Linked DNA regions of Homo sapiens. The protein of the gene in region 1 purifies or fractionates together with the protein of each later gene. This does not show direct contact. Each region holds a gene or a part of one and is shown on either strand. Other genes may lie near its edges.

Evidence for each region.
Region 2: the proteins of PTGES2 (region 1) and ABCF2 purify together in Homo sapiens (affinity purification with mass spectrometry; 2 studies listed by BioGRID). This does not show direct contact.

Annotation. Positions count from the first base shown.
Region 1 is NC_000009.12:128,120,193-128,124,729, forward strand, and holds the end of PTGES2 (prostaglandin E synthase 2), read right to left. Parts: intron 4,359-4,537; coding exon 4,300-4,358; intron 3,660-4,299; coding exon 3,510-3,659; intron 2,943-3,509; coding exon 2,742-2,942; intron 2,455-2,741; coding exon of another isoform or gene 2,409-2,454; exon of another isoform or gene 2,294-2,408; intron 2,288-2,293; coding exon 2,170-2,287; intron 1,082-2,169; coding exon 953-1,081; 3' UTR 501-952; downstream 1-500. UniProt on the Homo sapiens protein: Isomerase that catalyzes the conversion of PGH2 into the more stable prostaglandin E2 (PGE2) (in vitro). The biological function and the GSH-dependent property of PTGES2 is still under debate.
Region 2 is NC_000007.14:151,224,056-151,232,006, forward strand, and holds the start of ABCF2 (ATP-binding cassette sub-family F member 2), read right to left. Parts: upstream 3,151-7,951; 5' UTR 3,108-3,150; intron 2,446-3,107; 5' UTR 2,404-2,445; coding exon 2,250-2,403; intron 934-2,249; coding exon 721-933; intron 60-720; coding exon 1-59. Other genes in the region: ABCF2-H2BK1 (ABCF2-H2B protein), read right to left, coding at 1-59, 721-933, 2,250-2,403.

The DNA.
Region 1 (4,537 bases):
CAGGAAAGGGGGTCCCACCCACAACCCACACTCACCCTGGAAGGCAGAGCCTCTTCTCCCATAAAGCCTGGCCCAGCCTGGAGCTGAAGCCCGGGGCCGCCACCTGAGAGGGCTTGGTTCTGTCTGTAGAGCAGGGGTCTGAATAGCCTGGTGCCCTGGACCAGGTGACCCGGCTCTGTGCACTGCACCTGCTCCTATCACTGAACTCTCCCACAAGGCGGGGACAGACGAAGAAACTGAGGCTTGATGAGTGACCCCACTGCAGAGCCCCACCGTGGGTAGGGTGCCCCGACCTGCACTCTGGCTGCTGGGCTCCACGGCCCAGCTGTGTGCCCTGAGTGGTATCCTGGGGACGATGCCACACAAAGCCTGCGGAGCCGTACCGTGCCTGACACCTGGGAAGCCCCAGGCCAGCGGTTAGTTACCACAAGGGCTGGCACAGCCCAAGCCTGATGCCTCCCTTGACCGCCAGCCCCACGCAGCACTCAGCCACACGGAGCTCCATGAGATGCCTGCCATGACAGGCGCCACAAACCTTTCCTTTATTGCAAACATGTCCCAGTCCCGGGAGGCTTGGGAAGAGTGGGAACCAGGGGAACCCAGGGATGGGATTCCACTGAAAACAAACCGTCCTGCTGTCCTGTCGAGGGCCCCCACCCACAGGATGTAGCCATGGGACAGCCACTGAGGGTCCAGGAAGAGGGGCGGCAGAGCAGGGAGGCAGGGACAGGGAGGGGTCGCCCCAGGGCAGTGGCAGGGCTGGAACTCGTCCCTAACATCCCTGAGCCCCAGCAGGTGCCCTGTGTTAGAAGCGAGAGGGCTGGTGGGGGTGCGTGGACAAGGGGCAGAATGATCCTGCCCCCAACCAGTATCGCCAGGCGCTGGCCCAGTGGCCCCAGGCCCTGGCAGCTGGCGTCTTCCGCTGCCTTCCCTCTGCTCTGCGCGGGGACATTCAGTGCGCTGGGGAGGCCTCGGTGATGGCCCTCTCCACCCGCAGGTACCAGGGCTGGATGTGCGTGTGCTGCATCAGGTCATCGAACGCATCCAGCCCCTCCATCACACGCAGCACGCCATACACCGCCTGGGGCACGAACAGAAACGTGTCACCATAGCTGGTTTGACAGGCATCCAGACCTCCTTCGTTCCCTGCCAGCTGTGTGGCCAGGTCCCGTCCCCTCCCCCCTTGGAGCTCGTGACCCACTCAAGGGCCAACAGCACAGGTGAGGGTTTGAACAAAGCATGTGGGGTGGCTGCAGGTCTCGCCTGCTTCACATCTGTACCCCCTTTTCTGGGCCACAGACCCTGCCCCCCAGCAAGTTTCCTTGGGATAAATGCCCTCCCCTCATCTCAGGTCCTGAGATGGGGGAGAAGAGACCCCACCACCCAGTTTCAAGACCCAGGTCACCCAGGGGCAGGACAGTTTTAAAAATGAGCAGTGGGCCAGGCACGCTGGCTCACGCCTGTAGTCCCAGCACTTTGGGAGGCCAAAGTGGATGGATCACCTGCGGTCAGGAGTTCGAGACCAGCCTGACCAACATACTGAAACTCTGTCTCTACTAAAAATTCAAAAATTAGCCGGGCATGGTGGCACAGGCCTGTAATCCCAGCTACTCAGGAGGCTGAGGCAGAAGAATTGCTTGAACCTGGGAGGCGGAGGTTGCAGCGAGCCAAGACTGCACCGCTGCACTCCCGCCTGGGTGACAGCGTGAGACTTGGTCTCAAAAAAAAAACAAAAACAACAACAACAAAAAAAAACAAAAGGAAAAAGGGCAGTGAAGCCAGGCCAGTGAGACGCCCTCCCAGGGGTTTTCTGGGAGAAGCCTGGAGCACCGGACCCAGCCCGCCTGAGGCTGAAGCCAACTCCAGGGAGGGCAGTGTTGATGGCGACAGGTAGAGCTTGGGCTCTGGTAACACCACCCGGGCCTCTGGATCCAGCAGGGCCCGAAGCCAACCCGTTCCCTGAACTTGTCAGTTATGTGAACCAAGGCGGTTCCTGGTCATCTGTTTCTCTCCTGGAGCCACTTCGAGGCGAGTTTCTGTCCGTGATGGCAGAGAGAGGCAGGTTCCTCTGGCAAGATGCAAGCACCGTCCAGGCTTTCCCTTGCAAACCTCCCCCACTCTGAGGACAGAACCCTCGGTCCAGGCACCACCTGCCACCACCACACTCACCAAATCAGCGAGATTCGGCTTCTGGCCCCCCATGAAGGGCCGGTCCTTGCCCACAGCAGCCACCCACTTGTCAGCAGCCTCATAGAGGTCCTCGCGCACGTTGTCCTGGAGGCGGTGCCTGGGCGGGGAAGGGAAAAGCCCCTCAGGGGAGCCCCCACTCCCAGCCCAGCAGGGAAGAGGGTCTCCTCTGGGGAGAGGGGGGAGGTGTGGAAGCCAGGACGGCACCCCAGGTGAGAGCATCACATCTGCAGACGCCTCAGGGAGCATCCGTCCCAGACGGGGAGGCTGTGGTAAAGGCAAGAGACCAGGCCAGGGAGAAAGCCACAGAGGAGGCGCCAGTCAGGGCCCAGGCTTCCGGCTTCAAGGCCAGCCCTGCTGTCCCCAGGGGAGGTGAGCAGGAGCTCTGGGTCCAAGTCCCATCTTGGCCAAGGGACCCATAATCCATAATGCGTTTCCCACCTGCCCTAGGCCTCGGCCTCCCGCTGGTCTCCTGAGGGGTGTGATGGGATCACCACTGCTCGTGGCACCGGAGGCTCGGGGACAGCAGGCCCCGGATGTGCACACACACTTGCCTGCTCTTGAGTCGCTTGCTGATGAGGTACATGGCCGCTGCACCCATGTACTTGGCCACGGCACCCTCCACGGCTCCGAACTTGCCCTCGCGGACAATGTAGTCAAAGGACGCCAGAGCCTCGGTGGGCGTGCGGTACACATTGGGGGAGATCAGGTGCACCAGCCAGTCGTCCGCCCACTGCCGCCACTTCATCTCCTCCCTGCGGGCACGGGAGGGACTTCCTAAGCCAGGACCCGGGCTGTGTTGGGAGCAGGCTGCATTCTCTAGAACATACCCACTGCACGGGCGGGAAGCTGAAGCCTGAGCAGGAAGGTCTTTTTTTTTTTTTTGAGACAAAGTCTCGCTCTGTCACCCAGGCTGGAGTGCAATGGCACCATCTCAGCTCACTGCATCCTCCGCCTCCTGGGTTCAAGCGATTCTCCTGCTTCAGCCTCCTTAGTAGCTGGGATTATAGGTGTGTGCCTCCACACCTAGCTAATTTTTGCATTTTTATAGAGATGGGGTTTTGCCATGTTGGCCAGGCTGGTCTTGAACTCCTGACCTCAGGTGATCTGCCTGCCTCGGCCTCCCAACAGGCTGGGATTACAGGAGTGAGCCACCACGCCCGGCTGCAGGAAGGTCTCTACTGAAATCCGGCATGGCCCGGCCCCAGCCCCGCTGGTCTCCCATGCTGCTCCCTGCTCACGCCATCTTGCTCAGCTTGGTCCTACTCTACAGAAGACCCCTGCGGTCACCACCTTCCCCCGCCAGCCCCAGCCCCACTCACGTCCTGGCCTCCTTCCCACCATACACTTGCTGGGCCTCCTTCTCGTTGAGCATGAGCCAGTACTTATTGCCGAACTCGGTCACCTCCTTGCCCTGCTCGTTCACAGCCTTCATGGCTGGGTAGTAGGTGATGATCTCTTCCAGGGGCTGCCTTCGGAGAGAGCCACAATATCACCCCAACTCCTTCCCCCTCCGTCCCCTGTGGCCGACCAACCCCGCTGCCCCAGCCTCAGAGTGGAGCCAGGACCAACAAAGGCTCTCCGGACTCTTGCAGTAAGAGGGATTTGGAGTAGATGCCAGGGCTACCTCCCCAAGAGAGGGAGGTGTGGGGAGGACAAAGTAGGGGGCTTGGAGGAGGACGGCCACGGGCTACTCTGGAAAATCATTTTTTTTTTTTTTTGAGACGGAGTCTCGCTCTGTCACCCAGGCTGGAGTGCAGTGGCACGATCTTGGCTCACCGCAACCCTCTGCCTCCCGGGTTCAAGCGATTCTCCTGCCTCAGCCTCCTGAGTAGCTGGGACTACAGGCACTCGCCACTATGCCTGGCTAATTTTTGTATTTTTAGTAGAGATGGAGCTTCGCCATGTTGGCCAGGCTGGTCTGGAACTCCTGACCTCAGGTGATCTGCCTGCCTCGGCCTCCCAAAGTGCTGGGATTACAGGTGCGAGCCACTCTGTACTCTGGAAATCTAAGCAGCAGCTCCACGTGCTCCCAGGAGGGAACTCAGGGGAGGCCTCCCTGGAGGAAGCCACCAAAAGCAATGGCCACCTGGTCTCCGAGGGGCTCCTTACCCCGACACCAGGTAGGTCTTGAGGGCGCTGATGATGACAGAGGAGTCATTTAGTTGTTGCTGGAAGAGAAAAGGGTGGTTTAATCAGAGGTTGCAACCCAGCCGCTGGGAGTCACCAGGGGCTCTTTAACAAGACACTCTGGGCATTGTTTATCCATTCCTGGGGACATGCCCGGAGTCCTCCCCGCCCTGCCCTCAGGGCACCCATCCTAAGTAGGGAGACGTGGTTGTGGCCAATG
Region 2 (7,951 bases), on another chromosome or scaffold:
GATGTGCTCAGGGATGGGCACTTCACGCTTCCCAATAGCAGAGAGCAGCATGGACTTTCCTGAGAGGGGAGAGCAGCAGACGCTTGGTACAGTGAACTCCCCTATCCCTCTTCACCACTAGTTCTTCCACCCCAGTCAAACTGGGACCTCATCCATTTTTTTTTTTTTGAGGACCTTTCTTCCCTTCATTCGTTCAAATCTTGCCAGCCCCCATTCTTGGGATTCCTTTCTAACTTTCCTCCAATTCTTGCCCCACCCCTTATCTGAAGCTTTTTTCACTTACCACAGCTTCACACGCCCCTGACCAACTTCTCCAGCACCTGCTGTAACTAATCATGTGGTACAGGGTGGACGCACCCTAATCTGAAAATCCAAAATGCTCCAAAATCCAAAACCTTTTAAGTGCTCACATGATGCTTAAAGGAAATGCTCACTGGAGAATTTCAGGTTTTTGGATTAGGGATGCTCAGCCGGTAAGTATAATGCAAATATTCCAAGATCCGAAACACTTCTGGTTCCAAGCATTTCAGATAAGGGATACTCAACCTGTACATAACACATACTGCTCTGCGTTGCTAGTTCCTTTCCCCTGGACATAATCTGGTCTCCCATCCCTATTCTAAATGCTTTGCTCTGAACACAGTTGATGCTAAATAAATGCTTGTGAGTGACAGATGAGCTAAGGAGAGATACCTCCCACCTCCCCTTCCAAGGCCTCACCAATTCCATTTAAACCAATGAGGCCATAACGACGGCCTGAGTTTAATTCCAGTTTGGTGTCACTGAGCAGCTCTTGACCATGAAAGGTAAGTGAGAGGTTGATGATGTGAACATCAGTACTGTTGGGGTGAGAGGCCAGGACGCCAGTGACAGCTCGAGCAGCAGCTTTCTTCATCTCAAAGTCCTCTAGCTCCTTGGTCAGCAAATCTACTTCTGCGGATAGAAAAGCAGTTTGGGAAGATGGCGTGAGACAGACTCGGCTCTCCACAAAGGTCAACGTCCTGAAGGACCAGGCTCCAATCCTGCTGAGCACTCAGATGTTTCCCAAACTTTACAGAGTGCACAATGACACAGAGCTGCCCCGACACCCTGCTTTCCTTTGTTTTGTCCTCCCATATCTGTTTACTTACTCCCATCACTCTTAACTTCTGTCCTCCACTACTGTGGCCAGGAATAAAACTTCCCCACAGCCTGACTTTATTGCTCTTTCTAATTGCTTTCTAAGTCCCCCTTTTCTGAACGCCTATCTGTTACAACTTGCAGACTAATTCTCCTTTCCTCTTCAAACATTTACTTAGTGTCTACCTGAGAAGCAAGTCATAAAAAAAACCCAAGACAGGGTCCTTGCACTCAAAGATGAAACAATTTAGACAAAGAAACAGGAGATACAACATAAAAAGGTAAGTAACACTAAAAGACAGCAAAAGGGTATAGAGAATGGAAATACTGTGGTCAGGTTTGACTGAGAGACGCTTCATTATCTTGAGCTGGGCCTTGACAGAAATGTCAAATGTAGCTAGCAAAAACATGATGGTATTATAATTCAGTGTGTGAAAGGACAGAGATGTGGTGACTATCCAAGAGATAATAAATAGTCTGGATGGAGCAGAAGGCTGTTTAGGGAGTTTTCAGGGGGCAGGGAAGAGGGCTGGGATTGGACTGCCAAGGGCCTGGAATAGTCTTTACCGCATATGGCCATGTTTCCCAGTCTAGACGGTAAGTTTTTGGAGGGAAGACGGTAGTGCCTCAGTGTATAGCACCATGTCTAGCACTTGAGAAATAATAAATATTTCCCAAAATATAAATAACAGAAAGGGAGCTCTCTCCCAGGAAAAACCCCATAAATCAACTCATAAGTTACTCTCTTGTAGGTAGAGCCACTACACCAGTGAGAGGACAAGCTTATTGTATAATGTAGCAAAGAACCTGGCACATTGGTCACCATGCATAGAAATGGAAACTGAGAAAGGGGCAGGGAACTGATCCCCTCCTCACAATCTAATAGAGCAGCAAGGCAGCTCAGCAACTCTCACATCCGCTTGCCACTGAGTATGTGAGAACCTCGTCTTCGGCTTCCTTGCGCAATGACAGGGTGGCACGAATTCCAACTCTACTGATTTGATTCATCATGAAAAGTTGCATGACACCAGATACATTCTCCACTACCCCCAGCATCAAGATTCCAACTCTGGCTGGGGCATGCATTAAGTCTTAGCAACCATCCCCAACTCACCCCTCCCTCAATTCACCTGTGGTCTCTCTGCCATTGGCCTCATTCTTCTCTGCCACCTGTGGTTCTGTGACAACATCTCCATTTTCTTCATGTCCTTTTCTGGGCCGCTGTCGAGCTTTGGCAGCCTCCTTCTTTTTGGCTGCCTTCTTCTTGGCCAGGTCGGAGGGCATGATGATGACCCACAGGGGTAGGTTACTGTTGTTTCAGGGAGCCTGAAGGAAGGCAAACAGATACCCCCAAACCCTAAACTTACTAGTAAGAATGCCTGGGCCCTGCTCCATCCCTCTCAGGAATCTTCGTATCAACATCAAGCCTCTGATGCCCTGGCCTGCCCCCGCCTCGTCTGTTCCAACTTGGTCAGGGTATCCCAAACCAATGCCGATTCTCAGCGGCTCTTCTAATCTTAACATCTCTTCCCACAGGCACCAGTCCCCCACGGACTGCCTCACTTTGGAAACGCTCCTTCTTTCAGGGCCTCCGGCTGGGGACCAGGTTCTGCCCCTCAGCGGAGGTCTCCGTCTCCGGTTTCCCTACAACTTGGCGCTCCGCACTCAGCTAGCCGCCTCACTTTCCGGGCTTCCTCCTCCCGTCCGTCTCGGGCCTCTTCTCGATCGTCCCTCTCCACATCACCCGGCCGTCGAGCCCAGCCTCTTGCCGGGACGCACTCGTCCTCGCCCGCGTGAGTCCCCTCCGAGTCTCCACGCTCGTCACCCCCGGGTCCTCCCCCACCCCGCCCGTCAGCTTCTCTCCCTTAGCCCTATCTTCCCCCTCGCAGAGCCCTCCATCCAAACCCCGTCCCTGCTTCCTCTTCTAATTCTCTTTCCCCCTCACCGGCGGGGACCCTCTCCCTACAGCTCCCCTTCCCCTAACTCACTGGGCCTCGCTGCTCGGCCTATGTCGCAACAGAGCTGCTCCTTAGGATCCTCCGCGTGCGGCCGGCTCACCAGCCAATCACGGCCTCGGGTGGTTCTCGGCGCGCCGCGCTGCCTCCTTGGAAGTGTAGTCCTCAAGTTGCAGCGGCCAAGAGTGAGACCCGCCTTGAGGACTACTATGTATCCCACAGACCTCGCGGGGCCGCGTGACGCCATCAGGATGCGCGAGGCTCGGGGAGGGGGCGGGATTAGAGTCCAAGAGCTCTCTGCTAGCGGGCGCACTTCGGGCGCTGGAAACTGCAAATCCCAGATTGCTCGTTGGATAAACCGGCTGAGCCTTCAGGCTTTACCCCACCTCTCGAAAATCCATTGAGCTGTTGTGGAGTTACGAGTTTTTAGAGCTACCTAACCGACTCAGGCAGCAGGGCGTGCAACTACACTTCCCAGCTTGCCTCAGCGGGAGTAGATCGAAACAATGGGAGAGGAGAGGTGGGAGCGTGAGGGGAGGACTAAAATGAAGGGGGCGCTGGGCAGGGAGGGGTTCCAGAAAGCGGGGCATCGCTGCAAAGATGTTGCCAACGGAATTCCTTCACGAAAGAAAGCGCCTTGGTTTCATTAAACCTTAATTTTAGAGGCTGGTTCATTGTTAAACTTTTAGAAGGTGCCAGACGTTGTTTTGGAACCTCGGCCGCTTAGCCTCCCCGCTGCCGCATTGTTAGGTTTCCACTGAAGCCATGCAAGTTTGGTGGAAAGGGCCCCGAGATAAAAAGGCCCCTTGGCTGAGATTTGTTTTATTATTAGTTAGCCATGCTACCGGGCCCGTTACTTTCCCTTTGAGTCTCACTGTTTAAAATCTCTCACATGACATTTTGGGCTGGATGGTTTAAAAATAAATACAATCTCTCAAGGACTTCACATTACCTACATTGTAAACTCCAAATGTTTAGCCTCAAGTACAAGGCAGGCCCTTTGTGATCTTTGTTACTTCTCCAGGCTCCTGTGCAGCAGAAGCCTCACCATCAGTGACGTTTGGGGCAGCAAAGGAAGCTATTGCTCCCTTTGAGCATATTCTCCAAATGTGGCACCTTTTCGCCCACAGTCCGTGACTCAAACAATGAGAATTAGTTTTTCTTCTCAAACTCATACTTCAGTAGAACTTACCTACTTAAATAGTTCGGAGATTAAGCGTGCTATTTTACACCTGCATGCCTTTGAACATACATTTTCCTAGAATATCCTCCACCAACGAAGTGCCTACTATCTGTCAGGCTCAGATATATGTGCTGGAGTTGCAATGGTGCAAAGTCACTCCCTGACCTCAGGGAGCTCATAATAAAGAAGGAACATGTGAAAAGTAAACAAGCCGGGTGTGGTGGCTCACACCTGTAATCCAAGCACTTTGGAAGGCCGTAGTGGGAGGATCATTTCAGCCCAGGAGTTCAAGGCTGCAGTGAGCTATAATCAAACCACTGCACTCCAGACTGGGTGACAAAACTAGACCCTGTCTCTAAAAAAACAAAAAACAAAAAAAACAGACCTTGACACCATGAAATTAAGTGCCCTAAACGAAGTGACTTTCGTGTGTTGCTGGGGTACCTAGGTGGAGACCTCACTTGGCATAGCATAATTAAGAGCATAACCCCAGTTCTATGCTTCATTGTGTGGCCTTGGGCAAAGTACATGTTCTCCTCTGTAAAATGGGAATATAGTTACAAAAAGAATACAGTTAAATGACTGTAAAACCCTTCTGTATGAAGCAAAAGAGTTATTTATGGGCCGGGCACGGTGGCTCACGCCTGTAATCCCAGCACTTTGGGAGGCCGAGGCCAGCGGATCACGAGGTCAGGAGATCGAGACCATCCTGGCTAACACGGTAAAACCCCGTCTCTACTAAAAATACAAAAAATTAGCCAGGCATGGTGGCGGGCACCTGTAGTCCCAGCTACTCGGGAGGCTGAGGCAGGAGAATGTCGTGAACCTGGGAAGTGGAACTTGGAGTGAGCCGAGATCACGCCACTGCACTCCAGCCTGGGCAACAGAGCGAGACTCCATCTCAAAAAAAAAAAAAAGTTATTTATGATTGTGGATCACATAAAAAGCACTCATTTGGCTGAGTGTGGTGGCTCATGACTGTATTCCCAGCACTTTGGGAGGTGGAGGCAGGTGGATCTTTTGAGCTCAGGAGTTCAAGACCAGCCTTGGCAACATGGCGAAGTCCTATCTCTATTAAAAAAAATACAAAAATTAGCCGGGCGTGGTAGCGCATCGCTGCGGTCCCAGTTACCCAGAAGGTCAAGGCTGCAGCAAGCTGAGATCGTACCACTGCGCTCCTACCTGGGCAACAGAGCAAGACCCTGTCTCAAAAAACAAAACACAACAAAGAAACAGATTCAAGCGCCTGTGCCTCCTGGGAGAAATATGCTTCTCCTTTCCCAGCCTCGTTTAAAAATGTGTGGTTACAGATAACAATATTTATTATGCTTTTTCATTTATGCCATCACATTAAACTCCCCACCCCCAACAAACTCCGAGGTGAGGATTATTACCATTTTGCAGATCAGGAAACTACGGTGACAAGCAGCTCTGGGCAGCTCTGTTGCCTAGGCTGGAGTTCAGTGGCACGATCATGGCTCACTGCAACCTCGACCTCCTGGGCTCAAGCGATCCTCCCACGTTGGCCTCCCAAGTAGCTGGGACTACAGGCAAGCACCACCATGCCTGGCTAATTTTTGTTTTTTTTTTTCAGAGATGAGGTTTTGCCATGTTGCCCAGGCTGGTCTGGAACTCCTGGGTTCAAACGATCTGCCCACTTTGGCTTCCCAAAGTGCTGGGATTACAATTCCAGGCATGAGCCACTGCACCTGGCTACAGTTTTTAAATTTTACATAGAGATGGTGTCTTCTTATGTTGCCCAGGCTGGTCTCAAACTCCTGGGCTCAAGAGATCCTCCTGCCTCGACCTTCTGAAATCCTGGTATTACAGGTGTGAGCCACCATCCCTCCCCCTGCCCACCCTGCCCTGGGTTTAGCCAGAGAAAAGAACTCGGGATGAGGGGAGAAGAAACAGGGAAAGAGAAATGGGAAAATGGGGGAGAAAAGGAGGTGAGTAAAGAGAGAGGAGAAAGGGACTGGCTAAATTTGAAAAAAATCACAGAAGGTCAGTGCTGGAAACAAGAATATTTGGCTTAGACTCTGTTTAAATTATGAAGAAACGGAGACCCAAGGAAGGAAATGTCTCTTGGAGAATTACCTAGGAACTTAGTAACTGAAAAGGATCTGGACCTGCAGTGTTCAGTATGGTAGCCTCCGGCCATATGTGGCTATGGAGCACTTGAAATGTGGCTAGTCTGAATTGAGATTTGCTGTTAAGTGTAAAATACACATCAGACTTCAAATATTCCATATAAAAAAAGAATGTAAAGTATCTCATCAATAATTTTTCATATTGACTCCATGTTGAAATGATTGGGATATATCTAATAATACAATAAAATATTAAAATTAATTTTACCTTTTTTAACTCTAAAAAATGTGGTTACTAAAAAATTTTAAACAACATATATGGCTCACATTTGTGGCTTGCACTAGATTTCTACTGGACAGCGCTGGTCTAGAAATCTTCTGACCTTGAGCTAAGTGTATCTGCTGTTTCCCAGTCTCTTCCAACAAGTCATTTACAACCTATCATGTGCCAGCTGATGAGAACAGATTCAGTTGCAGTCTAAGGATGAGACTAAAACAGGGATAACAGGTGCTGGTAGGCAATATCAGTGAGTTCTATCTTATATACTCCTAGAATGGTATCTATAAGATATACATACAAGATATTCTTGAGTGGTTCTTAACTTTACCAGCCCCAATGTTCCATTTTAATAACATTTTTATAACTCCCCATTTACTATTGTGAAATGAAGTTTATAGATAGTATAGCCTAACTACATACATAATTTCAAAAAAAATTATAGTGTCTGAACCAAAGCAGAAAGAATAAAAGGAAATCCTTTATAATAAGATAATACTTTTCAGTATGCTAGAAAGCATAATTAGTCAGATGCTAGTAGTTATGCATAGGAGCACCTTGAATGTGACAGTACAAATGCAGACTGAACGCTATGAATAACACTGCTATCAGTGACCCAGTTCTCCAAAATGGTGAGTAATTCCTAATAAATTCCTGAACACAACAAAGTATAATCTTCCTTCTGTTAACATGGTGGTTACATTCCTTAAAAATTCAGCACATTTTACACCCCTACAAGATTACTTTGTTTTTTGTATATAAGACACAGGCACATCAGATGATTATAACCAGTTTTTTTTTAACCTATATGAATATTCAGTAGGACATGTGAAAGCTGTGTGGGATCAGGACAGTTTTCTTGTGTGATACCATCTTGCAATGTGCAAGACATGGAGCCTCCTTGGCTCCTCTCCCCCAATCATTTGACAACAAAATTGCCCCGAACATTTCCAAATTGCTCCTTAGGGAGGGTGCCATTCTGGTTGGGGAACCACTGTGGTGGTCTGAATGCTTTACCTGTTCCCTGTTCCCCAGCCTTACCTTGGGCTGTTCTCCCCTCACCAGGCTCAAAGATGCCCTGGGCCTTCCCAGTTCTTCTCCAAGCCAATCTCTTTCCTCTCTCAGGACATTCTGGTGCTCTTTTCTTTGCCTGGAAAACTGTCCACTTCATGTCTGGATAACTTTTCCTGAACCTTTGGATCTCAGCATTGCCAAATTCCCAGTCTAATTTAATACTTTGTTTAGTTTTTCCACAGGACTCTGTGCTTTTCTGCAATGGTACTTATCAGACTGGGATTTCTACCTGTTTTATTCTTGCTATGTCAAG